2 linked regions of the Homo sapiens genome follow. The protein of the gene in region 1 purifies or fractionates together with the protein of each later gene. This does not show direct contact. Each region holds a gene or a part of one and is shown on either strand. Other genes may lie near its edges. The genes, in order: REEP3 and UBE2O.

Evidence for each region.
Region 2: the proteins of REEP3 (region 1) and UBE2O purify together in Homo sapiens (co-immunoprecipitation; 2 studies listed by BioGRID and IntAct, with this or other methods). This does not show direct contact.

The regions. Positions count from the first base shown.
Region 1 is NC_000010.11:63,521,420-63,537,132, forward strand, and holds part of REEP3 (receptor expression-enhancing protein 3), read left to right. Parts: 5' UTR 1-126; coding exon 127-158; intron 159-318; exon of another isoform or gene 319-471; intron 472-15,713. UniProt on the Homo sapiens protein: Microtubule-binding protein required to ensure proper cell division and nuclear envelope reassembly by sequestering the endoplasmic reticulum away from chromosomes during mitosis.
Region 2 is NC_000017.11:76,440,143-76,455,855, reverse strand, and holds the start of UBE2O ((E3-independent) E2 ubiquitin-conjugating enzyme), read left to right. Parts: upstream 1-2,703; 5' UTR 2,704-2,714; coding exon 2,715-3,131; intron 3,132-15,713. UniProt on the Homo sapiens protein: E2/E3 hybrid ubiquitin-protein ligase that displays both E2 and E3 ligase activities and mediates monoubiquitination of target proteins. Negatively regulates TRAF6-mediated NF-kappa-B activation independently of its E2 activity.

The sequences.
Region 1 (15,713 bases):
TGAGGGCGCCAGCGCGGCCCCGGGGAGCGCGAGGAGCCGGCGAAGCGCGCGGCCTGCCGTTGGCGGCCTGGTCCGCAGCGCCCTGCGCCCACCCGCCCCGGACGTGGGGCCCAAGCCCCCGTGAAGATGGTGTCCTGGATGATCTCCAGAGCCGTGGTGTAAGTGCCTCTCACTGCGCCCTGCAGCCGGCGCGAGGCCCAGGGGAGCTGTGGGAAGGGGAAGGAGCCGAGAGGAAAGGGAAGGCCTGGGCCTGGGCGGGGACGGGGTAGCCCGGCCTCGGGCCTGCCGAGGGTCTGGGGGAGCCCTCGGCTTCCTCACCTTGGTCCACGTCGCTGCGGAGCTCCCTGCGACGGCCGAGGGCCTAGCTGCGGCGACTGCGGCTGCGACGGCGGCGGCGGCTGTGGCGCTGCTCGGCTGCGTGCGGTGCGGCGCGGCGCCCCTGCTCCGGCGGCGCTGGGTGGGCAGGCGCTCAGGGCAGGCGGCGCGCGCTCCCCGCTCCTGCTCCCCGCGCAGCGCGGCACCGCCCTGCGGGCCCGGGAGCGGCGCGCCTCGCAGCTGCTCCCTGCGCAGGCTCCGCAGACGCCGAGCGCGGGAGGCTCCGCGATCCTCCCGAGGATGCGACGGCAGTGCCGAGCCTTTGTATCCCGCGGCTGATGCGTTGCGGTGTCTCTCTTGGCGGCTGATTGCCATTCGGTCACGTGTGGTAGGAGGAGAGATTTGTCTAAAAACCGGAGACCGCTCCCAGCCCAGGATCCCTGGGAAGGGTCCTAGTTTTCCCAAGATTTGCAGCTTACCGAGAAAGGTGACACCGGCTGCTCGCCCAGATCCCCGAATTCGGCCCTGTCTCGGCGGAAATATTTGCTAAGTGATTGAAAGGCTGCAGGTGCCTGTTGCCTTTGTTCAAATTATGGGTTCATTTCATTGTTCTCCTACCAACAAGTGCTACAGGTCTGTAAGAAAAAGAAATTCCTTGAGTTGGTGGTGTTAATCGTGTAAATGTATTTGAATACAGTTTAAACTGATTTTCTCTCATCTCCATTTTACCCCTCTCCCCGATTAAAAAAAAAGTCACCAAGTAAACAATGACGTAGTTACAGCTAGGGCCTATGAATTCATTATTCACCTCTGTAGTAGTGTTATCTCAGAAGGTTTCATAAAGGTATATGAAAAAATGTTTATGTGAGGGGGCAGGCTTCTCTGATAAGCTTTAGAATTTAGGAAAAATAACATTACCAGACTTTTTGTTAAAAGGAGCTAGATTTTCTGAGTTTGGGGTTTATTTTGTTTGGAAGTGAATTACTAGCCCTATTTAATCAGATTTGCAGCACAGCATTCAAAATTTTTCATTTGATTAAATCGCAAAGTTTCTAGTTTTAAAGCCTCAGAGCTTCCTGTGTTCCCCTGTACGAAACTAAAAATCAAGATATAAACAAAAGGATACCACAGATGCCTTCAGATTGTTTTTCAGCCTTTTCCTGGCCTCTCTTTTGAGTCTGTCATTTATCTAATTCAGGCATACCTTTCTTGACCTAGTAGATGTCTATCAACTGTTGTGTCCACACCTAGAAAATCAAGTGCCCTATTAAGAAGCTGTACTTTACAAAAAAAAAAAAAAAAGCCTCTGGATTTCTTTGACCAGTTCTTCAGCTGACAGAAAATTGTGAAGCACTTTTAGACTTTTGTTTTTCATAATTGCCAATGAATATGAATGTCTGTTCTAGGTGCTACCTATAACACAAAGGTCAGTAACACGTAGTTGATCATGGGAATTGACAGTTTGGGTGCACAGATATCTGCAGTACAGGTCCAAATGTCAACTCTTGTAAAAGTTACACCCACTCTAATACCCAGTGTTGGACAAGGAAGGGATATCTGGTTGGAGAATCAGAAAAGGCAAGGGAGATTACGTTTCAGATGGGCCTTAAAGAATAGGCCCAGTAGAGTGGCTCACACCTGTAATCCTAGCACTTTGGGAGGCCAAGGAGGGAAGATTGTTTGATCACAAGAGTTAGAGACCAGCCTGGGCAACATAGCGAGACCTTGTCTCCACAAAAAAAGAAAAATTTAATTAGCTAGTCACAGTAGCTCACACCTGTAATCCCAGCTACTCAGGGACTGAGGTAGGAGGATCGCTCAAATTCAGGAGGTCAAGGCTGCAGTGAGCCGTGATCGTGCCACTGCACTCCAGCCTGGGCCACAGAGTGAGACTGTGCCTCAGAAAAAAAACAAAAAAGAATGGACAGAATCTAGGCAGCCAAAGATGAAAAAGGAAAGGATTCCAGATATAGGGACCGGCGTGAGCCAAAGCCCAGAGGAGGAAAAGCCCAGATTAGTTACAGTGGGCGTGAGGGACTCGGGTGGGGAAAAAGCAAGCTGGAAAGGTAGCCTGGGGCCTGTTTTCAAGAAAGAAGGGGTAAATGTTATAAGGCAGCAACAGCTTTGCTTTGGAAGATTCTCTGCCCTTCTGTGAAATGATTGGCAATGGAGACCTGGAAGACAAGGAGACTCCTTAGGAGGCTCCCTAACTGGAGAGAGGGGATTAAAGCCTCTCTCCAGTTAAAGTACTTGAGCTACAGAATGTAAGGTTTGAGGCTAACGACAGGGAGCAATAATGTGAGGAAGAAAATGTCATGAAAAGAAATGTATTTCTCAAGTGTCAGGAACTGTTATTTTGTGAGCCGTGAACACATTAGCACATTAGAAAGCACACTTGTAGAGAATATAAACATCATTCTATTTTTCCTCTTTACTCAGTTTCTCTCTCTAAACATGAAAGAGCAATCACAGGATCTACACAAACTTGGAAACCTTTTTCACACCAGGAGGTAGAATTTACTTGATTCTTTCTAACCCACTGAGACAACCACCTCCTCCTGAGCAAGATCAGACCCTTCTCTCAACATGAACCTCTGGTAGCATGGGCAGGGAACCTCCATAACCAAAGCACCCTGTATGTAGAAGCACTTTGTCCCAAGATCCTGCACTTTAACACCAGAGAAATTAGCCCTGGACACCACTCTTTTTTTTTTCTTTTTTGAGACAGAGTCTCTCTCTGTCGCCCACGCTGGAGTGCGGTGGTGTGATCTCAACTCACTGCAACCTCCACCTCCCAATTCAAGCAATTCTCATGTCTCATGACTCAACCTCCCAAGTAGCTGGGACTATAGGTGCACGCCACCACACCCGGCTAATTTTTTTGTATTTTTAGTAGAGACAGGGTTTCACCATATTGGCCAGGCTGGCCTTGAACTCCTAGCCTCAAGTGATCCGCCCACCTTCCTCGCTAAGTGCTAGAATTACAGCCATGAGCCACCGCACCTGGCCCTGGATACCACTGTTTACAGCTGCGTGGTCTTGGGCAGCATGCTAAACCCTTCTGAGCTTCAGTCTTCTTGCCTTTAAGTCATTATAATAAATACCACATGAAACCGTTGTAAAGAAAATTAGCCGGGCGTGATGGCGCACACCTGTAGTCCTGGCTACTAGGGAAGCTGAGGCACTAGAATCACTTGAACCCTGGAGGCAAAGGTTGCAGTGAGCTGAGATCGTGCCACTGCACTCCAGCCTGGGCAACAGAGCAAGACTCTGTCTCAAAAAAAAAAAAAAGACTGTTGTAAAGATTAAATTAGTTTAACTAAAACGTGGAAGTGTGGTGCTTGGCATTGAGTGTGCACTTAAAACGTAATAGATATATAGATAGCTTTTTTATGAGGGAAGTGAGTAAAATGGTGTAGGAAGAAATATCACTGGATTGTTACCAAGAAACTTGGAATTCAGAACTGGCTTTGGTTACCTTAACCAGCTGAATGACCCTGAGGCAGTCTCTTGCTGATTATAGACCTTGGTTCTATTTCTTAGAAGAGGCAAAGGGACCTGATAACCGCCAAGCTCTTTTGTCCAGCCTTAGCATTCTGTGATGATATGAAAGTATTTTTCCATTACTTACAGTCTGTTCAATCTCAGCTTACTTTAACATCACAGGCAAGATTGACAGATTAGTTACTTTTTTTTTTTTTGAGACGGAGTTTTTCTCTTGGTGTACAGGCTAGAGTGCAGTGGCACAATCTTGGCTTACTGCAATTTCCGCCTCCCGGGTTCAAGCAGTTCTCCTGCCTCAGCCTCCCAAGTGGCTGGGATTACAGACATGTGCTACCATGCCCAGCTAATTTTTGTATTTTTAGTAGAGACGGGGTTTCACCACGTTGGCCAGGCTGGACTTGAACTCCTGACCTCAGGTGATCCTCCCACCTCAGCCTCCCAAAGTGCTGGGATTACAGGCATGAATAGTTACCAATTTTTAAGGGATAGTAGTTTGAGATTACCAATGATGTTCCATTCATATATGATATCCACACCTCACCTTTTGAAACATGACTCTCATAAGTTGAGGGAAATTCCATTTTTTTCCCTAACTTTTCTTAATTTGTTTTTATGATCTAGCATTGTGATTAAGATCAAGATAAAAGCCAGATTGCCAAATTCAACTATTAACTCTGCCATTTATGCGTCATAACCTACCCCATGGGATTAAATACATTACTATATGTAATGTCCATAGTCCAGCATCTGGCACATAGTAAGCATTCAGTAAATGCTAGTAGTAGTTATCAGAAAAAGGAAAAACATGCTCTCCTAAAATCCCAGCATGCTGAATGTTTGAAGTATCTTCAATATACATTTTTTGTTTGAATCACTTTGTGTGTAGGTAACATAATTTTAATTAGAGTATAGTAAAAATGTTATACTAGTCTTTATTATATTGTAAGCATCTTCTATGTTGCTCTGAAATCTTATAAGCATCTTCTATGTTGCTCTGAAATCCTATTTAGTATCTTCTGTTTGATCAGGCCAGTATTATTTTCTTAGCCATTCATCTATTTGTATTTAATTTTACATTTAGATAATTTTTAATATTTCATTATTATAAGTAATGCTGAAATGCAATTATAATGCTATAATGGACATTATATATACTTCTTTTGAAGTACATACTTCTTTGGGATAAAAATACAAGAGGAATATTTCTGAGTCAAACACTGAATATTTTTATGATCATTGATATGAATTGCCAGATTGCTTTCCAAAAGAATATTAATATTTTACATGCTAGCAGCAATGTGTGAGTACTTTCTTTATCACAATGTAGCCAGAATCGGAAGTTTTAATTTTTTAATACTTTACCAATAAATATAACATATCTCATTGTTTTCTTTTGTATTTTATTTATCAGCACAGTTGAATGCTTGTCCAGATTTTTATTAATTATATATATTATGCATACAGTATGTATATACTTTGCCCATTTATCTCTTGGTTACTTGATAATTTACTTGTTTTGTCTGAGCTTTTTACATAATAAAGGAATTAACCTTATGTGATATTTCATGCAAATGTGTTTCTCAATCTAATTTCAGTTTTCTTTTAGATATTTTATTCTTGGTTGCATAGAGAGTTTATAGTTTTAATATAGTTCGCCTTCTTTGTTTTTTATTTTGTGATTTCTTGATCATTTCTAAATGTAAAATTAGATACTACAGATATTTGATAAGTACTACTTTCCTATGTAGAAGTGGATTAATTTGGAGACTTCCTTTTCAATTCTATATATCGATATTTCCCTTTTTTACAATGATAATACATTTTTGTTTTACCTTAGTTTAATTGTCTGGCAGTACTCTTAAAACCCGCAATTATTTTTCTCTGATTCTCTTCATTTATATTGGGTGCTATAATGGATGTCTTCAAAGGCTAAATTATACACCTTAAAAACCATACTTCAGCAGCTTTCCCCCTTCTTTTCAGCTTCATCTCTTTTTTCTTCTCTACTAGATCTTTCTCGACAGCATACCAACATGCTATTACTTCTCCCATCTTAAAAAAAAAAACTCTTTTAATCTACTATACTTTTCATCTTATCACCCCATTTCCCTCTGTCTCTTTAGAGCAAAAATTCCTCAGAAGAATAGTCCAAGCCGGGCACAGTGGCTCTTGCTTGTAATCCCAACACTTTGGGAGGCTGATGCGTATAGATTACCTCAGCTCAGGAGTTCCAGACCAATCCAGGCAACCTGGTGAAACCCCATCTCTACAAAAAATACAAAAAACAAAAAAATTAGCTGGGCGTGGTGGTACATGCCTGTAATCCCGGCTACTGTGGATGCTGAAGTGGGAGAATCACTTGAGCCTGGGATGTTGAGGCTGCAGTGAGCCATGAGCATGCCACTGCACTCCAGCCTGGGCAACAGAGTGAGACCTTGTCTCAAAAAAAAAAGAAAAATAATTTTTTTAAAAAAAGGATAGTCTATACACCATCTTCACTTTCTTTCCTTCAGGGTACTCTGGAACCCATACGTTTGTTTAGACTTTTCTCTCCTTCCACTCCACTGAAATTGCCCTTCTCAGATCAATAGTGACCGCCACTTGGCCAAACTGTTTGATCCTCATCTGACTTATCAGCAGCTTTTGATACAATTGCTCACTTTCTCCTTGAAGTATTTTCTTCACTTGGTTTCCAAGAAACCTTGCTTTTTTTTGTTTTTTTTTTTTTTGTTTTTGTAACTCAACGGCCACTCCCTTCTCAGCCTACCTGGCACATTTCTCCATGTTCCTTGACTTCTTAAAGTTGTTAAAGTTGGCATGTCATGGGGATCAGTCCTTAGACCATTTTCTCTTTTCTATTTGTAGTCCTTTAAGGATTCCCATTAATTTACATCTCCAACCCAGATCTCTCTGCTGAACTCTGTGATCATATTTTCAGCTGCGTTCTTTGCTCCACGTGGAAACATCTGAAAGTCAGACTGAACTTAAGACATCCAAAACTAGGCTCTTGAGCTTCCTTCCCCATCTGGCTCCTCTGGCAGCTTTCCCCCACTCTGTTAATGCCAGCTCCACCTACTAGCAGCTCAGGCCAAAGACCTTGGGATCATACCATCCTTGATTCCTCTCTTTCTCTAGTTCCCTACATTGAATCCGCAAATCTTGTTGACTCTGCTTTCAAAATACATCCTGTACTCACCACCTTTACATACACCATTCTAGTCCAAGCCAGCATCATCTCTGAAATGTGTTGTAGTGGCATAGTGTCCTGTGTCTGCCCTTGTCCCTCCTCAACAGCAGCCAAAATAGTCCTGTTGAAACCCAAGTCAAGTCATGTGACTCGTCTGCTCACAACCCTCAGATGACTTCCTGCCTCACTCAGGAAAGCCAGGTCCTTATGATGGTCTACAAACAGGACATGATCTGGACTTTTTTCCATCTCAAACCTTTGTCTCTACCTGCCCGCTGCCATTATAACTCCAGCCACAGTGATCTCCAACACAGTGGAGATCTGTGATCTCCAGGTAAGACCTGAGAGCCTGGGCACTTGATGGCCCCTGCCTCAGTGCACTTCCCACAGATACCCTCCTGCCTCATTCCCTCGCTTCCTTCAGGTGTTCACTTTCTCAGTGACCCCAGCACTCCTGCTTTCCTTCCCCGCTCCGTTGTCTGTAGTATTTGGTACTTCACTTCTTTAACCTATCATCTGTCCTCTCCAACTAGAAAATAGTCTCCATGAGAGAAGTCTTTTCTCTAATATGTTCATTGCACACAAAAGAAGCTCAATAAATATTTTCCGCAGTAAGAGAATGAAAAAAATGAATGTGAACTATAAATCACAGAACTATTGATAGTAAATATTATGCCTCATGAATTTGGGGACTGCCTTTTTTTCCCTCCTCCAGAGCTTATTTCACAATTAATTTTTCTCATGAAAGCTGCAGTGAATGAATTATTTGGAAAGAGAGACTGAAAGGATCTCAGCATTGAATAAAGTTTTTTTCACTAATGAGCCTCTTTCCAGACACACTTATTCCAGATAGGGAAAAGAGAAAAGGCTCTGCATTTGTACTGTTACTAAAAACAATCTCTTTAAACCTTGGTAACCTAGCTAAAATTGTTCTGGAGATAGATAGGGAAGTAGGATTGGATACCTTAACAAATATAGGAAAGAAAACAGAATAATATGACTGGAAGTGAATGTCATTCTTTTATTTATTTTATTTATTTATTTATTTTAGAGACAGGGTTTCACTCTGTCATCCAGGCTGGAGTACAGTGCAGTGACATGATCCTGGTTCACTGGAGCCTCAAACTCCTGAGCTCAAGCAATCCTCCTACCTCAGCCTCCCAGGTAGCCAGGACTAGAGGCATGCACTACCACACCCAGCTAATTTTTTTATTTTACTTTTGTAGAGATGAGGGTCTTGCCATATTGCCCAGGCTGGTCTCCAACTCCTGGCCTCAAGCATTCCTACCACCTTGGCCTCCCAAAGTGCTGGGATTACAGCTGTGAGCCACTGCCCCGGCCATGAATGTGATTCTTTTTTTTTTTTTGAGACTGAGGAGTTTTGCTCTTGTTGCCCAGGCTGGAGTGCAATGGCGCAATCTCGGCTCAATGCAACCTCCACCTCCTGGGTTCAAGCAATTCTCCTACCTCAGCCTCCCGAGTAGCTGGGATTACAGGTGGCCACCACCATGCCCTGCTAATTTCTGTATTTTTAGTAGAGACAGCGTTTCACCATGTTGGCCAGGCTGGTCTTCAACTCCTGACCTCAGGTGATCCACCTGCCTTGGCCTCCTCAAGTGCTGGGATTACTAGCATGAGCCACTGCGCCCTGATGAATGTCATTTTTATATTCATCTTTGCTATAATATAGCAAGAGAATGTACCATTTGTTAGGGTATATGTTTGTTAAGTTTATGATAGGATTAATGAAAAAATCCTCATTTTTAAATCCTTATGGAAGTTTGAAGGCAGTCACAATTATATGAGTGATATTTTTCTTCCTTTATATGTGCTTTAAATTTTTTAACTGGTTGTAAAATCTCAATGATAGCTAAAATATTTTCTTTCAATTAGGTTAAGGTAGATTTTGTCTTTATTTACCATTTTTTATGAGATCCATTGTGAATAGCTTACATGTTCATGAGTTGTATCTAAGAATAAGATACATTGCTATTAGACAATGAGAAATCAGGTAAATAGGAACAATGATGTTTTCAAGAAAATTAAAAGGTTGACATTTTAAAAATATATGTAGGAAATGCCCTGTAAGAGGTCATCTTTTCTGTCTTCTTTCATTAAGAAAGAAAACACATTCTAAACTATTGGGTCTTGTTTTCACTGCATGGGCTAGAACTTCCAACAAGATTCCTTTATTAGCCTGCATTTCAAAAACAATTTGCTTTTGTCCATTTTTTGTTACTGTTGCTCTGTTAGCTATTTCTTTTTCCACTATATTTTAAACCCTTTTAGGATGGAGATTTTTATATTATGTACTTTAAGTATAGATGAAACTGTTCAAATAAATGGTACATTACAACAATAGTGGCATAAATGGGTATTTTAAATATCTTAAAAGATGTTATTGTTTTGATCATTTCATGGAAAAAGGTTACTGTTGATTCATAACAACATGAACTTATTTTTATGTCATTGATTACACATTTGCACTAAACTAATCCTTTCATACAACTTTTGAGGTAAATGAGAGGTTAAAGATAAAAATTTTTGTTATAAAATTGTTCATGTTTACAAAACTAACTGTTAAGGGTTTATGCATACTTACCCCTATTACTGAAGTAAATTTACCAGTTTCGTTCATGTTGTTATATTTACAGAGGCCACTATGACTGAAAATCAGGCGAGATGGCATACTCACTAAAACACTGTGAACAGGGAAAACAGTAGCAATCAGGATGGAATTATCCAACAGTGGTTAGAGATTATTTTATGTAATGAGCAGACCAGCTAACGTTAGAATGTTATATAGCCATTCATAATTATTTTCAAAGTACTTTTCATTTCATTTGAAGATGTTTTAATATATCACAGTTTCTTAACCTCAGCATTATTCATATTTTTAAGTGGATAATTCTCTGTTGTGGGAGACTCTCCTGTGCATTGTGGGATGTTTAGCAGCATCCACCAGTTGTGACAGCCAAAAATGGCTCCAGATATGGAATTGACATATGTCACCTAGTGGGCAAAACTGCCACTGGTTGGGAACCACTGTGTTAAGTAAAAAGGGAAGAAAAATATATATGGAGAGGGCATGAGGCTAAAAACTGTGCTATCTCATATGGTTATGTGTGGCTATTTAAATGTAAATTAATTAAAAATTAAATTTCTCAATACACTAGCCACATTTCAAGTGCTCAGTAGCTATGTGAATGCTTATCTTATTCTGTGCTACCTTACTGGGCAGCATAAAAATAGAACATTTTTATCATCGCAGAGTTCTGTTGAAGTGATCCTTTACGAGATATAGTCCGCTCAGCATCTCCACCTGAAAATGGCTGTGCTATTTTCTATTTGCTGCTTCTATGTATTTTATGAGAGAAATTCTATAATGATATTTGGAAATTCACAAGTATCTTAGGATAGCTCTGGCTTAAGAATATTCTATATAAAAATACTGTTGCTACTTGTAGAAAAGAAATTACTGTTGCTGATCAATCTGTCACAATCTTTATTATTTCAAAATTCCTATGTTTACAGAGAATTTCTAAAAATTGATGAAAAATACTGATATAGTACACTTTGCAAATATTTTTATACTCACGTATTCTGCACATCAGGTGTTATAATCCATATTTTTTAGCCTGTAAATGAAGTATGACTTACAAGTTATAGTTTTTCCTGGTCTTAGAATTGATTAAGACATTAGGATTAGAATACAGAGCTGAAGGTTATCACTATGTTGCTTTTCCTAACTATTAACAGTGTCATTGACTCTGCAGAATCAAAACTATCAAGGAAATCATAAAAGTAAAAGTCATAGGACAAATCTAAACAAAATAGGTTTATGCTAACCAATAATTCAAAACATAATCTTAGGAAATATTCAGATATATTAATACCGAGAGCATTAACACTTTCAAGTAATGATGTGTTCATTTTAGGAAAGAATTATTCTCACCTATAAATAAAGAAATAAAGTGCTGTAATCCCAGCACTTTGGGAGGCCGAGGTGGGTGGATCATGAGGCCAGGAGATCAAGACCACCCTGGCTAACACGGTGAAACCCTGTCTCTACTAAAAATACAAAAAATTATCCGGGCGTGTTGGCGGGCGCCTGTAATCCCAGCTACTCGAAGGGAGGCAGAATGGCGTGAACCCAGGAGGCGGAGCTCGCAGTGAGCCAAGATCGCGCCACTGCACTCCAGCCTGGGCGATAGAGCGAGACTCCGTCAAAAAAAAAAAAAGAAAAGGAGAAAAAAAAATTCAGGAGTTCCACACCAGCCTGGGCAACATGGTGAAACCCTGTCTCTACAAAAAGTACAAAAATTAGCCGGGCATGATGGCATGCGCCTGCAGTCCCAGCTACTCAGTACTCAGAAGGCTGAGGTGGAAGGATCCCTTGAGCCCAGGAGGTAAAGGCTGCAGTGAGCTAGGATCGTGCCACTGTACTCCAGCCTGGGCGACAGAGCGAGACCCTGTCTCATAAAAAAGAAGAGGAGAAAAAATGTCGAACAAACTAACTGTCTTAGAGTCATCACATGGGGAAGGGGGACAGATTTTTCTGTTATTGTGAATCCAAGGTTAAAGGTAGGTCTTATAAGGAAGCCAGTTTTATTCCATATATTGAGGAAAACTTTATAACGTCTAAAATTGTTCAACTTTGAAACTGCCAACATCATGAGTGCAGTGTGTATACCATCACTAGAGGCATAAAGGCAGGGTAGAACCCTAGTTGAAGATCTTAAACTATACTGCTTGTATGCTTCCTGTGGAGGATCAGATAGAAAATGTGGAATGCACTTTCACCAAAACTGTGAAGTGGGCAAACTGACTCTTGGAGAGGCCCACAGGAACAACAAGCCTAGTCGTTCTTGAGTGTTGACATGAAGAAAGTGCAGATATGGAAATAAAATAGAATATTTGGTGATATTTGCCTAATGGATACCGTTATTGTCATGATCAGTTCTTCACTGGTTTGTGGCTGTGGTCTTTATTTTCTGCTTAGGAAGCTGATCAATCTCACTATTGCTGAACACACTTCCAAGTTGTTCATTCAGTCCTTTTTATTTGCATTATATTTTTGGTTATTAATTTTCATCAACCGTAGTTTTTTTCTGGTTTTCTGAAATATAGGGACTTTCTGTTTTAACTTTGTATACCTAAGTTAATTTTGTAAATAGAAATGATAATGGTTTTAGGATGTTTAATGGATCGTGAGTGAATGAAAGTACTCTTTAAAGATATACCTATATAAGTCCACATGAAAGAGCCTTGGAAGTATGTAAATCTTTTTTTTTTTTTTTGAGACGGAGTCTCGCTCTGTCTCCCAGGCTGGAGTGCAGTGGCGCGATCTCAGCTCACTGCAAGCTCCGCCTCCCGGGTTCAAGCAATTCTCCTACCTCAGCCTCCCAGGTAGATGGGGTTACAGGCGCCCACCACCATGCCAGCTAATTTTTGGTATTATTGGTAGAGACAAGGTTTCACCATGTTGGCCGGGCTGGTCTCAAAGTCCTGACCTCAGGTGATCTGCCCACCTCGGCCTCTCAAAGTGCTGGGATTGCAGACATGACCCACCGCGCTTGCCCTGGAAGTATGTAAATCTTAAAGAACCTGAAAATATTAAGGTGTGAAATAAAGTTATATGAGAAAAATAGTCAGAAAGTTCTGTGTAGAGATATTCTAAAAAAAACCTGATCTTTCCTTGCTAAGTAAAAATGAGAAATTTAAATTGGAAATAAACTTTTTTGTCCACAAAGATTATGCTTATTATGATGAAATAATTCTTAAGAATTTCTAGATGTTATATCTTGAAGTATTATTATTTTTTATTTTTTTTTTGTTTTTTAGAGACAGGGTCTCCCTCTGTTGCTCAGGCTAGAGTGCAGTGGCACAGTCATAGTTCACTGTAACCTCAAATCCCTGGGCTCCAGCGATCTTCCTGCTTCCACCTCCTAAGTAGCTAGAACTATAAGCACACACCACCACATCCAGCTAATTTTTTATATTTTGTAGAGATAGGGCCTTGTTATGTTGCCCAGACTGTTCTTAAACTTCTGGCCTCAAGTGATCCTCCTTCCTTGGTCTCCCAAAGTGATGGAATTACAGGCGTGAGCCACTACAACCAGTTTTGAATATTTTATGTGGTAAATAGGATGCAAATACTGCCTTGTTTCAATTGGTTTCCTATAAGTTTAAGATACAGATGTATTGTCTCTGTGTAAATCTGTACCCAATTGCCTCAGATTTTTGCTGGTGACAAAGTCTTACAGTGCTTTAACTAAAATAGCTCACCTAAAACTAGGATCAGAAAAATATAGGATAGTAAGCCATTTTAAAAGTAATGGTTACAATAGAGACCTTGAGTTCCTGAATGACTGATAAATATAAAGGAAATACTGAAAATGAAATGACCTATAACCCTACAAGTGACACTGCCTAGACACACTTTTTAAGTGTATGATGAGGGCAGGAACTGTATGAGAAAGGAAAGCAGTCAGTTTTTCCTTTGAGGTCTAAAATTATGCTCTCCCACTGCAAAGTATGCCATCACTGTCACTTGGCTTCTCTTTTATTCTTTCCTCACCTTTATCTCTGGGTTTTTCTTTTTCCTTCATTCTCAATAAAAGTAGGAAGAGAATGGTATGGTCTCTGTCATGTGAAGAGAAATAATAATTTTTAAAGATTAGAAATATAATCTATTGTTTCAAAACTAACAGAAGAGAGGAAAGGAGGCTAAAGAGATACAGAAGGCCAAAATAAAGGGGTCAAGTAGGTGAGAGAGACATAAGGGGAAAAAAAGATGGTAGAAATGGGTTCAAATATATCAATAATAACAATAAATATCAACAAATTTTATCTTCCTGTTAAAAGACAGACTAAAATACTGGAAGGAAAAGAACTATAAAGTATAAAACATGATTGAAAGATAAAAGGATATCTGAATAAATGTATAGTTTATGTTAATGGGTCAATATTAATTAATGATTATCAGTTCATCTCCTAAAAAGTCTATAAATTTAATGGAATTCCAACAGGATTTTTATTGTTGTTTTCATGGAACCTGATAGGCTAATTACCTATAAAGTTCATATGAAAGAGCAAAAGCCCCAGAATCAAGAAGACAACTGTGAAGAAAAAGGAATAAAAACTTTCACTATTACATGTCATGATTTATTATAATGTAGGAATTACAACCTTGTAGTATTGTTGCTGTGATTGACAGTAGACTTAATAGAACATGTAACAAATCCAGAAATTAACCCAAGCTTGCAAAGAATCTGATATGACAGTGGTAGAATTCAAAATCAATGGGAAAGTATACCTAACTTAATAAATAGTGTTGTGATAATTGGTTATCTCTCAGAAAAAAAAATTAAAAAATAAAGATCTTTACTACACAGCAGACTCAAAAATAAATCGTAAATGTATTATCTGCCCAAGTGTAAAAAGTACAGCACTTAAACTTTTGGAAGAAAAGGTAGGAGAATATCACAATTTGGTAGAGAAGAATTTTTCAGACCCTACAACAAACCATAGAGGAAGCAACAGATAACATTTGTCTACATGTTTTATAGCCTACCATGTATCTGATGCTCATTCTGCATCAGGCATTATTCTAAGCAGTTTCAAACTAATTTGTTTCTGTTTCACAACCATCTTCATGACACAGGTACTGCTGTTATGTTCATTTCACCAATGAGAAACCTCAGGCTTAGAAATGTGAAATAACTTCCCAAAGTGGTCACACAGCTGCCAAGTAGCAAAGCTATATGGCAGTTGAGCTCCGGACATAGACCTTAATGTGCTATAATTTACACCTGTTATTTTAAATCCTCCTTGTTGAGATAGAATTTATATATAATAATTTCTATGTGTTTCATCAGATGTGTACACTCACATATCATCACCCTATCAAGATTCAGTTATTATCCACAGTGGTGGTTGAATGTCCATTTCTATTACATTCACCATTCCTGATAATAATTTTATCTCTCTCTATGTGAAAAGTATCTAAATTATTTAAAATATCCTCAGGATATAGAATTTTAAAAGCTAATTAGAAACTCATATTGCTGTTTTCTCAATTCCTTTCTAACTTGGGGCAAGGAAGGAGGGTGCAATGGGAGAAGCCAGCACTAGGATTGTTGCCCAGTGAGAGTAAAAAACGTCAACAGTTACATTGCTTAGATAACTAATAAAGTATAATAATCAGAAGATAAAAAGAATTCTTTAAAATCAGTAAGAAAAAAAATTAACCTAAAAAGAAAAGTGGACAAATGAACTGGTATCTCATAGAAGAGGAAACCAATGGCAACTAGACATATAAAAAGATAGACAAAACTCATTAGTTTTCAAGAAAATGTAAATTACAACCACATTGAAATTCCATTTCACACTTACTAGATTGCAAAAATTAAGAAGTCTGAAAATACCAAGTGTTGGCAAAGATGTGTACAGCAACAGGATCCTTTTCATGATGCCAGTAGGAGAGTAAGATGCTGGAACTGCTTTGGAAAACAATTTGGCCCTAACTTATAGTGTTAATCACTCACATACCCTATAACCCAGCAATCCCACAACTAGCTATGTACCATCAAAGAAATTTGGCATATGCATCAAAAGACATTTGCAAGGATATTTATAGGAAAATCCTTAAAGCAAAAGTCTATGAAAAATAATAGTTTACGTGGACAGAAGAATTGGTAAGTAA
Region 2 (15,713 bases), on another chromosome or scaffold:
TTTTAGCAGAGACGGGGTTTCACCATGTTGGCCAGGGTGCTCTTGAACTCCTGACTTCAAATGATCCATCTGCCTTGGCCTCCCAAAGTGCTGGGATTACAGATGTGAGCCACCACACCCAACCAACTTTTCTATGAACATAGTTCTGTATCTTCAGGATCCTGTAAACAACACAAAGAGCTGGGATTCTGCCTTCTTTGAAGAACCTAAATACTGTAATATCCAACTTACTAGTCTTTCGTTGATGATCGTGTAGAAAAATGTGGAAAAAATGATGTTGACTGAGAAAGGTTAGGGCCAGATCTTGTTTTCCTTAACAATCCATTTAAATCTGTCCTCTGAGAATGTATCTAAACCCTTTGAAACTTAGGTGACACATTAAATTAGAGTTAGTTTTTTTCTTTTGAGATAGAGTCTCACTCTGTCACCCAAGCTGGAGTGCAGTGGTGTGATCTAGGCTCACTGCAACCTCCAACCCCCAGGTTCAAGTGGTTCTCGTGTCTCAGCCTCCCAAGTAGCTGGAATTACAGGCGCCTGCCACCTTGCCCAGCTAATTTTGGATTTTTAGTAGACATGGGGTTTTGCCATGTTGGCCAGGCTAGTTTTGAACTCCTGACCTCAACTGATCCACCCACCTTGGCATCCCAAAGTGTTGGGATTTCAGGCGCAGTCAAAGTGTTGGGATTTCAGGCGTGAGCCACTGTGCCCGGCCTAGAGTTACTTTTTTTTGAGACGGAATCTCACTCTGTCGCCCAGGCTGGAGTGCAGCGGCGCGATCTAGGCTCACTACAACCTCCACTCCCCAGGTTCAAGTGATTCTCCTGCCTCAGCCTTCCGAGTAGCTGGGATTACAGGCGGCTGCCACCGCGCCCGGCTAATTTTTGTATTTTTAGTAGAGACAGGGTTTCACCATCTTGGCCAGGCTGGTCTTGAACTCCTGACCTCGGGTCTCCCACCCGCCTCGGTCTCCCAAAGTGCTGGGATTACAGGCAAGAGCCACCACATCCAGCCTTTTTTTTGTTTTTTGTTTTTTGAGACAGAGTCCTGCTCTGTTGCCAAGGCTGGAGTGTAGTGGCATGATCTCGGCTCACTGCAACTTCTGCCTCCCAGATTCAAGCAATTCTCCTGCCTCAGCCTCCCAAGTAGCTGGGACTACAGGTGCACACCACCACGCCCAGCTAATTTTTGTACTTTTAGTAGAGAAGGGATTTCGCCATGTTGGCCAGGGCGGTCTTGAACTCCTGACCTCAGGTGATCAGGTGATCCATCTGCTTCTGCCTCCCAAAGTGCTGGGATTACAGGCATGAGCCACCACGCCTGGCCCTAGAGTTACTTTTTATATTTTATTTATTTTTATTTATTTATTTTTTTGAGACAGAGTCTTGCTCTGTTGCCCAGGGTGGAGTGCAGTGGCGCGATCTGGGCTCACTGCAACCTCAGCCTCCCAGGTTCAAGCGATTTGCCTGCCTCAGCCTCCTGAGTAGCTGGGACTACAGCCATGTGCCACCACGCCCAGCTATTTTTTTTTTTTTTCCGTATTTTTAGTAGAGATGGGGTTTCGCCATGTTGGCCAGGATGGTCTCAATCTCTTGACCTCGTGATCCGCCCACCTCAGCCTCCCAAAGTACTGGGATGACAGGTGTGAGCTGCCGCGCCCGGCCTACTTTTTATATTTTAAAATGACAATATGGAGCAGACCATAACAGTTCTGCCAGTCTGGAATTTAGTCTAGGCAGGGAGTTTGGAAATAGTACAACAATGGTTAAGCTTATCGAAGGAGCTAAATGCCAGGCACTGTTCTACTTCACTTAATCCTCCAATTGCCCAATGAGATGAGTATTGCTATTATCATCCCTATTTCACAGATGAGCAAATTAAGATGAAAATAAGTTAATCAGTGTGCCTATTTTTATAGATTAGTAAGTGGCAGTGCCAAAAATTGGAATCCGTGGTCCCCACTCTTAGCTACCTTACTATACTACCTCTTGCCATTCATTCTTGGCTTCAGGGAGCTTTGAATTTATCTGCATGGATTTGTAGCCAAACCACTGGGACCACTGATCCTTTTGTTACCTTTCTCTGGGCCTCCTTCACCAGCTTCTGGGTCAACTTCTGAGGGGTCATGACGTTCGAACTGCTTGGAATTCCTGAATACAGTGCATTATACATATGCTCTACACGTATCTATTATAGCCTTACAAGTTGGAGTTGTTTGTTATCTATTTAATGTGTATTTGTTTTGTCTCCCCAACTAGACTGGAAACACCTAGAGGACAGGGACAGTATCTTTCTCTTTCTGCAATGCTCCCAGTGCCTGGGGGCTAGGCTAGGACGCCAAGGGAGCTCATTAAAAGTTGTTGACAGTCTCTCCACCATCCTGTGCCCCACCCCGACCACTCCCCTCTTCCTCGGTGGCCACTCCACTTCCTCCTCCCGGGTCCCCGCCCCTTCTCGCTCCCTTTAGTTGAATCCTCACTGGTCTCGCCCCTTCTTAGTGGATTCCATCCTGCCCCCGCCCCCCGCGGCATCTTCAGCGTCCCCTAGCGACGAGGCGGTGGCTCCTAGCAACTGCATCCCGGCTCCCTGACGACGGCGCCACGCAGGGACACGTCAGCGCGCTATGGCCCCGCCCCCGGCGCCCGCTGGTCCCGCCTCCCCGCGCCTCGTTCGCCGCCGCTGTCGCCGCCGCCGCCCGAGACTCGCGCAGAGCAGTTATGGCGGATCCCGCAGCCCCCACGCCCGCAGCTCCCGCTCCAGCCCAGGCCCCGGCTCCAGCCCCGGAGGCAGTCCCGGCCCCAGCCGCAGCCCCCGTCCCGGCGCCGGCGCCCGCCTCGGACTCGGCCTCCGGGCCGTCCTCGGACTCCGGCCCAGAAGCCGGCTCGCAGCGCCTGCTGTTTTCTCACGACCTGGTGTCGGGCCGTTACCGTGGCTCCGTGCACTTCGGGCTGGTGCGCCTCATCCACGGCGAGGACTCGGACTCGGAGGGCGAGGAGGAGGGCCGCGGGAGCTCGGGGTGCTCCGAGGCCGGGGGCGCGGGCCACGAGGAGGGCCGGGCCAGCCCCCTGCGCCGCGGCTACGTGCGCGTCCAGTGGTACCCGGAGGGCGTCAAGCAGCATGTGAAGGAGACCAAGGTGCGGCGGGCGGGGGCTGGGCGGCGCGGGCGGCAGGGGGTCGGCGGCCGGGCCGAGGCCAGGGAAGGACGGCGTGCAGGGCCCTGCCCGGAGCGGTGCCACTGCAGTGGCCGACGCGGGAGGACAGCCCCAGTGGAGGGTACACTCCATGCAAAGTCATTGCAGCAGCTCTGGGCGCACACGCCAGCCAGGCACTGCTGGCCCGGGACCGGGCGGGCCCTGGGCTTCCCGACTTGAGGGGACTTCTAAGACATGTTATGCTGTGGTGTCGGCCTCGAGATTTAGAGACGTGGACCGACTCCCGTGGGGACTCAGGTTCTGGGGCGCGTTCGGCGTTACACCAGTGCGGCGTTTTGCTGACCCCCAAGGAGCTCGGTACTGCATTGTGCATCCAGAAATGAAGGCCGTGCCGGGTCCGTGCAGGGAGGGGTTGTGGGCATTCCAAAACAAAGATAGAGGTGAAAATCCCAGCCGAACCCAAGAAGTTCACTAGCTTACAGGCTGCATTATGGTGAAGCCACCCAGCCTCTTTTTGTTTTACCCTGCTGCCTCCTTTTAATTGCTGCAGGGAACTTTGTGAGTAAAATCATTAGCAATCAGAGCCCCGGTATGAATAGTACTTGGGGGGGAGGATTCTGACAGCTGCGACCGGGATTGATGACTCCTAAGTGCATATGGACTCCTTGAAAAAAATAATCCAGAACCCTGGGTAGAGGGGAGTCACCAATTTGGAAACCCGAAGGTTTTTTCTTGACCTGAAGCTGTTAAGCAGACATCTGACTCCCGTATGGTTTTTGGGGTGATGCTAGTGAGTATAGCAGTTTTACAAAACAAAGAGGCTTGTCATCATAAACCCGAAACCTTGAACCCGGGTTGGTTTGGTGGCTTGTTTTCCAGAATGTGAATTCCTATCAGTAATTGACACACACACACACACACACACACCCCCCTGTATCTCACACCCCTTCTTTCTCTCCTACTTCCCCTCCCCTTCAAGAAAACATTTCTAAGCAGGAATCAGGCCTACGCTGTTTTAGGTCCTTGGGAGGTTGAGAGGTCTGATTTCAGGGGAGGGCACTTTGGAAGTTGATCTGGGTTTCTCACACAGTGGGAGACAAAGACTACAGAGGAACGGGGTTTCATGTCAAACTACAAAGCGGGGTCTGTGACAACGGCTTGAGAAGGAAAAAGGCCCCACTCCAGAGAAGAGCACATGATCCATTTCCTAGAGGCAGAAGTGACTGCTGATACCAGCGGGGTCTTTTTGTTGGGGATGCACATACATCCACAGACACAAATCCACACACAGGACCCTGCTTCCCCTCAGAGAAATGTGAATCAGGCAACAGCTCTGAGACTTGGAAGGAAAATTATCAGTCCATTTACAAGAGTATTTGGAAAATATTACTTTTGTGCAACAGAATGCTTGTTAAAAATTACCCAGTATTGTGTCAGTAAAAGAGGGTTATTGCTGTATACTGTGTGACACCAGATGATTGCTGGTGTCTTTCTGTGAGTTTTTAAGAATGTTTTTCACCACCCATCTATTTGAGAGATTCGTGATTTTTGGAACGCAACTCATTTGACTGCAGCATCCTCTGTGTTGTGGCCTCCTGCCCTAGGACTCAGGGAGGTAGGCCCAGCTCACTACTGGGAGCCGCTATGTTTATCAGTTGTTGTTCCCGTCCGTCTTGACTTTGGTGGTTAACTTTGTTTGCAGTTATGCTCCGTTTGCCTCCTGCACTATGTGTAATTATACAGAGTTTGACTTGAAATACCTATTTTGGAGTTAAATCGAAAACAACGGCCGGGTGTGGTAGCTCATGCCTGTAATCCCAGCACTTGGGAGGCCGAGGCGGGCGGATCACCTGAGGTCAGGAGTTCGAGACCAGCCTGACCAACATGGAGAAACCCTGTCTCTACTAAAAATACAAAATTAGCTGGGCTTGGTGGCGCATGCCTGTAACCTGAGCTACTCGGGAGGCTGAGGCGGGAGAATTGCTTGAACCAGGGAGGCGGAGGTTGCGGTGAGCTGAGATGGCACCATTGCACTCCAACCTGGGCAGCAAGAGTTAAACTCTGTCTCAAAAGAAAAGAAAAAAAAAACAACAACTTTGAGGCACCACTTTGGATAGATTTTGCAGCTGGCCTCCTGTGACTTGCTTTGAATTTGTTGAAATCCGTTTTGTGGCTCGGTGGTGGTATTTTGTCATTGTAGCATCTGGGTTTAGCAAAAGCCAAGGGACGCAGAAATTCCAAGGAAGTGGTGGAATGGGATGCCCATTTATGGGTGGCAAGATATAGTTCTTTTAGGATTTAGAATAGGTTTGTTTTGGAGGGTGGAGTTTATACCTGATAGGTAGCTCTGTTACCATGAGCTATAGATACAGGTGACTGATTAGCTGAATGTCTCCTGGTCTGTTACTGACCACCAAGCAGGGTGGTAGGGTGGGTCCTGGGACCTTGCAGAACTGTGGCTTAGGATGATTTTTCTTCTCACCTCCTGCTCCTTATGAATTCCATCAAGGTGATAGTATGCCGTAAAGGAAAGACCATTAGACCAAGATTGACTAATCTAGTTATGAGATTTGAGAACCCAATTATTGACAAAATAATGTAGTGGCAGATTTTTTTTTTTTTTTGAGTTACTGGTTTGTTTATTATTTTTGGGATGGGGTCTCACTGTTACTCAGGTGTCCTTGAATTCCTGGTCTCACACAATCCTCCTGCCTCAGCCTCCCAGGTAGCTGGGACTACAGTAGTGATGGTTTTGAGAAACTTATTTTTTATTTATTTATGTTTTTGAGACGGAGTTTTGCTCTTGTTGCCCAGGCTGGAGTGCAATGGCGCCAGCTCGGCTCACCGCAACCTCTGCCTCCCGGGTTCAAGCGATTCTCCTACCTCAGCCTCCCGAGTAGCTGGGATTACAGGCATACGCCATCACGCCCGGCTAATTTTTTGTATTTTTAGTGGAGACGGGGTTTCTCCGTGGTGGCCAGGCTGTTCTTGAACTCCTGACCTCAGGTGATCCGCCCGCCTCGGCCTCCCAAAGTGCTGGGATTACAGGCAGGAGCCACCGCACCCGCCCGAAACTTATTTTTTTTAATAAGCTGCTACCTATTGAAAATTTTTGTGTGTGAGTTTCTTTTTTAAACAGAGTCTCTCTCTGTCACCCAGGCTGGAGTGCAGTGGCACGATCTCAGCTCATTACAACCTCAACTTCCCGGGTTCAAGTGATTCTTGTGCCTCAGCCTCCCGCATAGCTGGGATTATGGGCATGCGCCATCACACCCAGCTAATTTTTGTATTTTTAGTAGAGACGGCAGTTTGCCATTTTGGCCAGGCTGGTCTTGAACTTCTGGCCTCAAGTGATTCACCGGCCTTGGCCTCCCCAAGTGCTGGAATTACAGGCATAAGCCACAGTGCCTTGCCCCATTGAAATTTTTTAGTAGTATCTATTTAATGTGGAGTGTTTCATAGGGTGTGGCGTATTTTTGTAGTTTTCTCTGTAAATTGGAGGGCAATGAGTAAAGGCTTAATCTTAGTCTCAAGTTTTTAGTGAACAAATTTACAAAGAGAGATGAAGAGACTGGGCAGCAAGTCATGTCCTTTCCCTGCTGCCTTCATGAAAATAGCAACAGAAACAAAGTAAGTTCTTCCATGAAGCTATGGAATTTGTCGTGTTCCTGAGGCTTCCAGCCACCAAAATTAAGCCTCTTAAGGACTCAAAAGGAGCTAGTGGCCAGTGTCTCTTATATGCTTCTTCCTTTCTCCAGTCTTCTGACCTGTTCAGCGAGGTAGCCACTTGAAACTGTCCATCTGGCCATGGATCTCCTTAGAGGAGGCTTGCCCCTTCCCCATCACCAGTCATCCTTTGAATAAAATTTTGTAACAAAGCCAAATGCCAGCAGCCACTTAAACCTTCATGAGCACTGGCTAGACGTGGTGGGTCCTTCTGGTCTCCACCTGTCATGGTTGGGCAGAACAGCCCCCTGCGAGGTAAGGGAGCAGGACTGCTGTCTGTCAGTTCAAGTTCAGCCTTCGTTTCGGAGGCAAAGCGTTTATGCTTTAGCTTTCTTGTGCTTTTTCATCTCTTTTGCATTGTCTTTTGTTTTAAGTTGCCATGACATTCAGGGTTTCACCAGGTTTGAGATATAGTGCCTCTAAATTAGGGCTGTCTGTGATCACCCTGCTTTTATGAAGCTGTGTGTGTGAAACATCCCTGATGACAGGTCCCTCGGGAATTGGCTTTGCAGTTTATTTTTGGCTCCTACGCTGGCCAGCATTTCCATGGGGAAAGCTATTTAGGTGTAGCATCATGGCACGTGAAGTTTGTCTCACTTGTCTGGGTGCTGGGCCCATTAAAAGCAATTGTTCTTAGTGATGTAATGTGAAGAAGTTATATAAGGTTAACCAAGATGCAGGACTAAGTGAATCTAAATTGCGTTTTATTCAGATAGGATCACAGCACTTGTAGACTCTTAACAGCTGTTCTGTGATTTTATTCTTTGTCCCTTGATTTTTCCCCTTCTAGCCCTCGGGCCTCAGTGCCCTGATGGTGCTTCTGTCTGGCTGCTGCCTGACTCAAGGGTACTTTCCCCAGATGAAGGGTGTGTGTTTTGTACTGTGATTGGAAGCCAAAACCCTTGGGTGCTCTTCCTGGCTGTCACCTACTCTGAATGACCTTGACCAAGTCACTGCCTCATTTTCTCCCTCTGCAATGAAATAAGAGGTCTATCTTCCTAACCCCGATATGATCCTGCTCGGATGGAATAACCAGAAGTGTAGCTGGGTCAAGCCTAGGATGGCCACTTGGTTATTAGCAGACAGCATTCTGATGTCTGTCAGAGAGAGCCAGCCCTGTGCCTTCAGAAGATCACTTCCATGAGAAAGAGGGTGATGCTGCACCAAAGAGGCACCTTGGGAAGCAAAAGGTGCACGAGGCGGGTTGTGGGGAAGGTGGTTGTTTCAGGGGCATAGGAATTCCTAATGGCTCGTGTTGCTAGTGACCAGATGGATTATAGGTTTGACTTTATTAAACCTCTTCTAGAAATACTCATGAACTTCCTACCTCTGTTACTTTGTGAGAAATTCAGTAATGCACATTTAAAGTAACCCCGGCCGTCCTCCAGGAGGGGGATGGAATGAATCTGTATGTATGTATGTATGTTTCCAGAGTCTGAAAGGTCTCTTGAAATTCTCAAGACTGGTAATGAGATTATAAATTACAAAGATGATAGAGTATTGCTTTATATTTTAAGGTAATAAGAGCAGTCATGATCCAGGATACTGTTACTGTGTGCCAGGCACTCTTAGTGCTTTAGATGTTTTACTTCACGCTCACAACAACCCTGTGGTGCTATTATTAGCCCCATATTCCAGAGAAGGAAGCTGAGGAACAGAGAGGTTAAGTAAATTGCCCAGTGTCACACTTCTAAGTGGAGGAATCTGAATACAAATTGAACTAAATGTACTTTGTTCTCACCTGAGAATACTTAAGTTCAGGATTCAGAGATCATTACTATACGTGACCGAGTGCCCTGATCCAACATGAATCACAAGCCTTGTGGTTGGCATTAATCATCCCTTCTTTAAACAGTTGAAAGTCTTAGTGTAATAGGAGGTACTACAAGTGAGGAAGGAGAGAGGCACAGGATGTTGGGATAGGTGGAAGTTGTGCCAGTGGGCAGGCAGGAGGGAGGGAGATGATGGGTAGGGAGCAGGACGGGAGGAACACTGCATTCGCACTGGCGGTGTGCTTCTGCAGATTCCACTCTTTTCATTCCCTGACCCCTCAGTCATTCTCAAAATAACTGTCAAAAACACATTGCATTTCTAGAGAACCTTTGACTGCCCCTCAATGTTGAATGAAGCAACCTCTGTAGTCTGATTCATTCCAACACTGAACTGCAGTTCAGTTTTATTCCCCAACTCCACCTCCTAGAGCAAAACAAGTGTGCAGACACTCCACGTAACTGGCATTTCTGTGTTGCCTCAGAAGTGGTCAGCTCCATTAGGAGCTCCAACTTGACCTCCTGTCCGCTCTGCTGCTGTCATCCTTCGGCTGGGAATGCTGAGTCATGAGACAGGTTCAGGAAGGATTCCTTGGAGAGGCTGAGTTCCACCTCAATTTCAGTTTCTGTTCCCTTCAGTTTCCGTGTGTTTTTGCTTTAGGACATTAGAGGCCTCTTTGCACCTTCCCCATCTCTACTTCACTTTTATCCCTGTTTCTCTCTGTTTTGTTTGTTTGGTTTTTTTTTTTGTTTGTTTTTGTTTTTTCATTTTCCTGTTATACTAAGAGGAACTTTTTCTATTTTTTACTACTTAACCCACCATGGGGGCTCATGGAATCCAGTGGAACCTGTTGGGGGCCAGCACTTTTTAAAAGGGTGCAATTGTCGTGTATAACATGAATTGCCAGCACAACAGTCCTGGGCACGTGATCAGTGTCAGCTGCCGCTGGTGGTCGGTCCCCTCAGAGTTGGAGTCAGGGTGGTTTTCTGTGACATGTGGGTTTTCACCCAGGAGGATATGATCTGTGCTCCTATTCTGATGGAAGCTTTTGGAATTTCCTTGCCCAAGGCTTAGCCTGCTTCTGGATGGCGATGGGGAGTTGCTGATTTAAAATGACAATCAAAAGGGGCAAGTTACAATCAGGAACGTCTATAATGTGCTTTCCAGTTTACAAGAGGCTATCACTTTTCTCACTTAATAGGATCTCGGTATTTTTAACTGTAGCTCCTTCCTGAGGCTCCACTTGCCCATGAATGGGTGCCAGTCCTGGAGAAGGTCATGGTCTAAATGCTGCCCATCCACATTTGCAGCTCTTACTGAGCAAGAGTGCCCGTTCGGAATTGCTTCATCTTCTGACATTCCAGCCAGCCACGGGGGGACTCTGTCAGGAGCCACTTGATGTGTGCAGTTATAGCCAGGGAAGAGCAAAATGCTTATTGGAATTTGCTGTAGTTGAGAATAAAATTGAATTGTGTTACTGGATAACTCTCTGGATTTATCTACTCCAAGTTATTTGCCTTTGTTTCATTCGTTAGCTATACTCTGTGATTGAGGATTTAATGTCCTTCAATCCAGGCTGACTGTATTGGATGGATCCTTGGGTCAGCTTTGTCCAGGTCACCCCTAGACACAGGTAGGCTGTGTTCTCCTGAAGCAGTATTGTGAAAAGCACATTTTTATGGTTTAAACATTGCAGTCAGTTGACATACCACTCAGAAGTATTCAGTGGGCAATAAGGATTGGAATGAATGTCCTTTTTGGGTTTAATCTGGTTCTTTGGTTGGGGGATTTTGAGTTGGTTTGCATTTTTAGAGAGGCCACAGCAATATTTAATATTCTGCAGCTAAGTCAAAGGAGTAAGACATTTTTCAGGTCACTTTTGGTTTAAATTGATAGCATAACTATACCTGGGAAACAGTCTGACTATGATAATTGAAAGTAAAAAAAAAAATTAAAACACTGAGTCATGCTTGGAAAAAGAAAAAAAAAAAGGCAGTCAGTCCTACCCAACAATGACATGAATATTCCCAGCTAGCACTGACAGAGAGATTTCCTGCAGGCACCCTTAAAAAGAGAGGCCTTCATTTGCATCCTGCAAGAGAGCTGGTCTTTTCACACTCAGCAGCTCCGATGATGTTCTTCCTCCTCCTTTTAATTCTGGTCCTTTTTGTGGGAGCTCCCTCTGGAAGAGGGCAGTTGAAGATAGATACCTTGACCGGCAGATTCAGCGGACTGTGTGTGTGGTCACCGGACTGTGTGTGTGGTCACCGCTAGTGCAGGTGGGAAGTGTAGACACACAAATACGTCTCCAGGGATTCTGGGAGCCTCAGGGCTTGACATATGCAGTGCTGAAAGCATCCCGGTATTCATGTGCTCTGACTGTTTTATTATTTAAGGGATTCTGAGGGCCCTGAAGGTTGATGACATCATCTTCAAGCCAAGGAAGAAAGCATTTCTCTGGTCCCCCAGTGTGCTTTTGGGTCATCCCAGCACTGTACTGGGGGAAATGGATGTCTGCCTCCATTTCCTCATGACCTGCTCTCGCCTTCAGTCATTTTCTGTCTAACCTCTCACACCACTGAGTGTGACGGCTCCCCTGAAGGTCACAAATGACTAGTGAATTTCTGATCACTGCATTTGCTGACATTTTCTCAGTCCTTGTCCTCATTTTGATCCATCAGCCTTATGCTCTGTCACCCAGGCTGGAATGCAGTGGCGTGATCACACCTTACTGCAGCCTCCGCCTCCTGGGCTCAAGCAGTGCTCCCACCTCAGCCTCCTGTGCAGCTGGAACTACACACTCGGCTTTTTAAAATATTTTTGTAGAAACAGGGTCTCACCATGGTATTGGCCAGGCTGGTCTCGAACTCCTGACCCCAAGTGATCCTCCCACTTCAGCTTCCCAAAGTGTTGGGATTACAGACGTGAGCCACGGTGCCTAGCTGACCACACCCTCTTTGTTTTGTTTTGTTTTGTTTTGCTTTGTTTGTGAGATGGAGTCTCAGTCTGTCGCCCAGGCTGGAGTGCAGTGGTGCAACCTTGGCTCACTGCAACCTCTGCCTTCTGGGTTCTAGCGATTCTCCTGCCTCAGCCTCCCAAGTAGCTGGGATTACAGGCTCCCGCCACCACGTCCGAGTAATATTTGTCTTTTTAGCAGAGACGGGGTTTCACCATATTGGTCAGGCTGGTCTCGAACTCTTGACCTCAGGTGATCCATCCGCCTCAGCTTCCCAAAGTGCTGGGATTACAGGCATGAGCTACCGCGCCTGGCCGACCATGCCCTCTTAACGGTATTTCCTTCCTTGGGGTTCTATTATACCAGACTATACCAAATGTTTCTCTTTTTTGCCTTTTGTCTTCTTCCTCTTACCCATAGATGTGCAGCTTTTCCAAAGACCTCTCTTTTCTTTATCTCTTCCTCCCCAGTTTTTTGGAGTGACCTCCCTGCTTGTAGCTGCATCTGGTACCTGTATTTAGGTGACTTCCACAGTGACATCACATGCCCAGCTGCTTACTTGATAGCTCCATTGTGCCATGTAGACTTTGTGGGTATAAAATCTTGTGATTGTGACTGCCCTTCCCATCCCCAAGTCTGTGGACTTAAAAAAAAAAAAAATGTTCTGACTGGGCACAGTGGCTCACGCCTGTAATCCCAGCATTTTGGGAGGCCGAGGTGGGTGGATCACTTGAGGTCAGGAGTTCGAGACCAGCCTGGCCAACATGGTGAAACCCCATCTCTACTAAAAATGCAAAAATTAGCCATGCGTGGTGGTGGGTGCCTGTGATCCCAGCTACTCGGGAGGCTAGGGCAGGAGAATTGCTTGAACCCAGGAGGCAGAGGTTGCAGTGAGCCGAGATCGTGCCCCGGCACTCCAGCCTGGGCGACAGAGTGAGACTCTTTCTCGAGGAAAAAAATATATATATATATTCCCCAACTTTTTTTGTTTTTGGTTCTGAACCCAAGACCCAACTTTTTAATAGGAAAAAATATTGACCATACCAAAATGTTGAAAGCCAGTAATTGCTAACCCCCAACCATTATGAGTCAGCAGTTGTTAACATCCTGCCATATTTGCCTTATCTGTATGCTTATGTAAATATATTTCCTCCTGAATTATGTCTGGTACTAACTCCTGCTAAGTTAGTGGCAGACATGATAGCACTTCACCCCTAAATACCTAAGCTTGAATCTTCTCAAAATTAGAGCATTTGGGGTCATTTTTAATTTACCTTCTTTGGCCCTCATTCTAACTTGTCATCAGTTCTTTGAGAGGCCTCTTGCATCCTGTGCCTGCATTTCCCTTTCACAACCCTGGTTTGCTCTCTGCTTGCCTCATGCCTGCACTGTGTAGCCTTCTCCCTGGTCTCCCTGCCTCTAGTCCTCCTTCAACCAGTGAACAGCGCTGCCGCCAACTGACCTCCAAAGGGCTGACCTCCCAAGTGATCGCCTGGATTGTGTCAGGACCCAGCCTCTGATCATGCCTTGGTTGTCATTCAGGGCCCCTCACCTACACATCCTGCTCTATCTCCTGCCTCTTCAGTTGATTCCAGCCAATCTGACTGCTTTTCCCCAACTCAATTGTGCCGTTCCCTTCCTCTCATGCCCCATGGCACACCCACATTCTCTCCTGGATGGGAAGCTCCTTGAGAAACAGAGACAGCAAATCCTAAAGCTTGTGTGCTATCACGCACATGCAGACTCTTGGGAAACATCTTCATGAATGACCAGTTTGCTCCCTCCCACTTACTACAAATAGTATTCTTAGTCTTCTTCCAGATGCCCTGTGGTCTGTGCTGGAGCTGTATGGGCCCCTTACTAGACCACTCTGTCTCCCACCCCCCGTACTAGGTGTGTTGACCATGTACAGTAATTTATTGCCCAAGTTGGGTTCTTTTGAGAGTACTATGAATAATTACTCCAGGACTGGGACGTATGGGCATCCTAATACTAGGAAGAGCAGATTAATCAGAATACACCATATTGTAGTTACTACTTTGGCAACTTCCGTCGCGGGCTCCCCAGGCAGACTACGTGCATTGTGGACTAGGCTAGAGCTAGCTAGAGCTGGTGTCACCTGTGGTCGAAATGAAGCTGCTTCTGGCTGCATTTCCCCTGTAAGAACCCCGCCTAAAGCACTTGACAAATGGCAGATTCCACACACGTGGGTTTCCTGAATGGTTATCAGCACCCAGTCCTCACCTTAGGAGGATGGCTAAGTACGAACGAGGCTCTCTATTGGAAAAAGAATGCCCCACCCGACTGCAAATGAATCAGGAACGCAGCTTAGGCTATGCACTCTGCCTGCACCAAGACCCTTGGGGGCGGGGCCTGGAGTTGCAGTGGCTATGCCAGGCCTATTACTTTGAAGGAGTCAGGAACCATCTATTGAAAGTAGATATAACCACCCCTGTTTATCAGTGGAGGGGGAGGGGGAAGTGAAGAGAGCATGAATAAATGGATTCTAATCCAGCACTTTTCCAAGGTGAATGCCACATGCCATCACCTAGGGTCTCCTAATGCAAATTGTCCTAATTCCATTGGGCTGAAGAATCTGCGTGTCTAACAAACTCCCAGTGACATTGATGCTGCTGGCTGGGACTGTCTTTTGAATTGCACTTATATGGGCCCTTCCAAACCTCGTTGATGTCAATGGGTTCAGTTTTAGTACGTCTTTGGTTCGAGGCTTTTTCTCTCCCCTCTGCTTATTCTTCTAGTGCCAGTGTTAATGAACCGGGAATTGTCCAAAGGTGGGCTGCAGGAGGGGCAGGAAAGGGATGAGGCGGACTCATCATCCGCCAGTGCTTTAGTGTTAGAAAGGCTTGCCTCTTTCTTCCTCCCCATTGCTTGCTGGTGGTTATTATTAATGCACTGCTGTTGCTAAGAAGTTTCATTTGATTTCATTTCATTTTAGGATGTAAATATGGTAGTTGTTTTGAGTATAACACACCCAATCCAAGAGGAGAATGATTATTCAGCATTTTAATGAAATTGCTGTCTTTTATCCAGCCAGTGTCAATGGATTCCTGCTGTGAGCCAGGCATGTTAACTCACACTTTACCTGTGTCATCTCACTTCCCTTAAAGTGGCCAGTGCCCCATTTTAGAAAAGGAAAGACTGAAACCCAGAGAAAGCTTATAACTCACCAAGGCCACATAGCAAGTGGGAGGCCAACCCAAATTCAAACTTAGGCCAGTTTGTGCTGCCCGAATGCAGGTTCTCTTCACTGACTACACGGGTGCCCCCTGCACTGTGCTGGGTGCTGTGGGGAGAGAGATACCCCCACACAGGCCCTGCCCTCTAGATAAGGGGCCAGCCAAACTTTCTGTAAAGGGCCAGATGATAAATGTCCTAGTGTTGCAGGCTATACTGTCTCCTTCACAACAACTCAGCTTTGCCATTATAGCACAAAAGCATTCAGAGGCAGTAAGCAAATGAATGGGCATGGTCATGTTCCAATAAAATTTTAAGAAACAGGCAGTAGGCTGGACATGACCTGCAGGCTGTAGTTTTCCCACCTCTGCTCTGGAAGGATCCTGAAAAATAGAGATACAATGTGAGCCACAGCTGAAAAAAGTAAATAGAGGCCAGGCATGGTGGCTCATGGCTATAATCCCAACACTTTGGGAGGCCAAGCCAGGCGGATCACTTGAGGCCAGGAGTTCGAGACCAGCCTGGGCAACATGATGAAACCCCATCTCTTCAAAAAGTACAGAAATCATCTTAGCGTGGCAGCTTACGCCTGTAGTCCCAACTACTCAGTAGGCTGAGGTGAGAGGATCGCTTGAGTCCTGGCGGTCGAGGTGGCAATGGGCCGTGATCGTGCGACCCATTGCCCTTAAGCCTAGGCAACAGAGCAAGACCCTGTCTCAAAGTAAAAAAAACAAAGAGATGAAATTAATTTTAATATATTTTACTTAACCCAATGTATTCAAAATATTATATCAACATATAACTCATATGATAAGTACTAATGAGAGACTGTGCGTTCTTTTTACCATAGTGGCTACTGGATTGGGTAGCACTGCTTCAGAGACTTAGATAGGAGAGAGAACCATCGCTGTGATCTC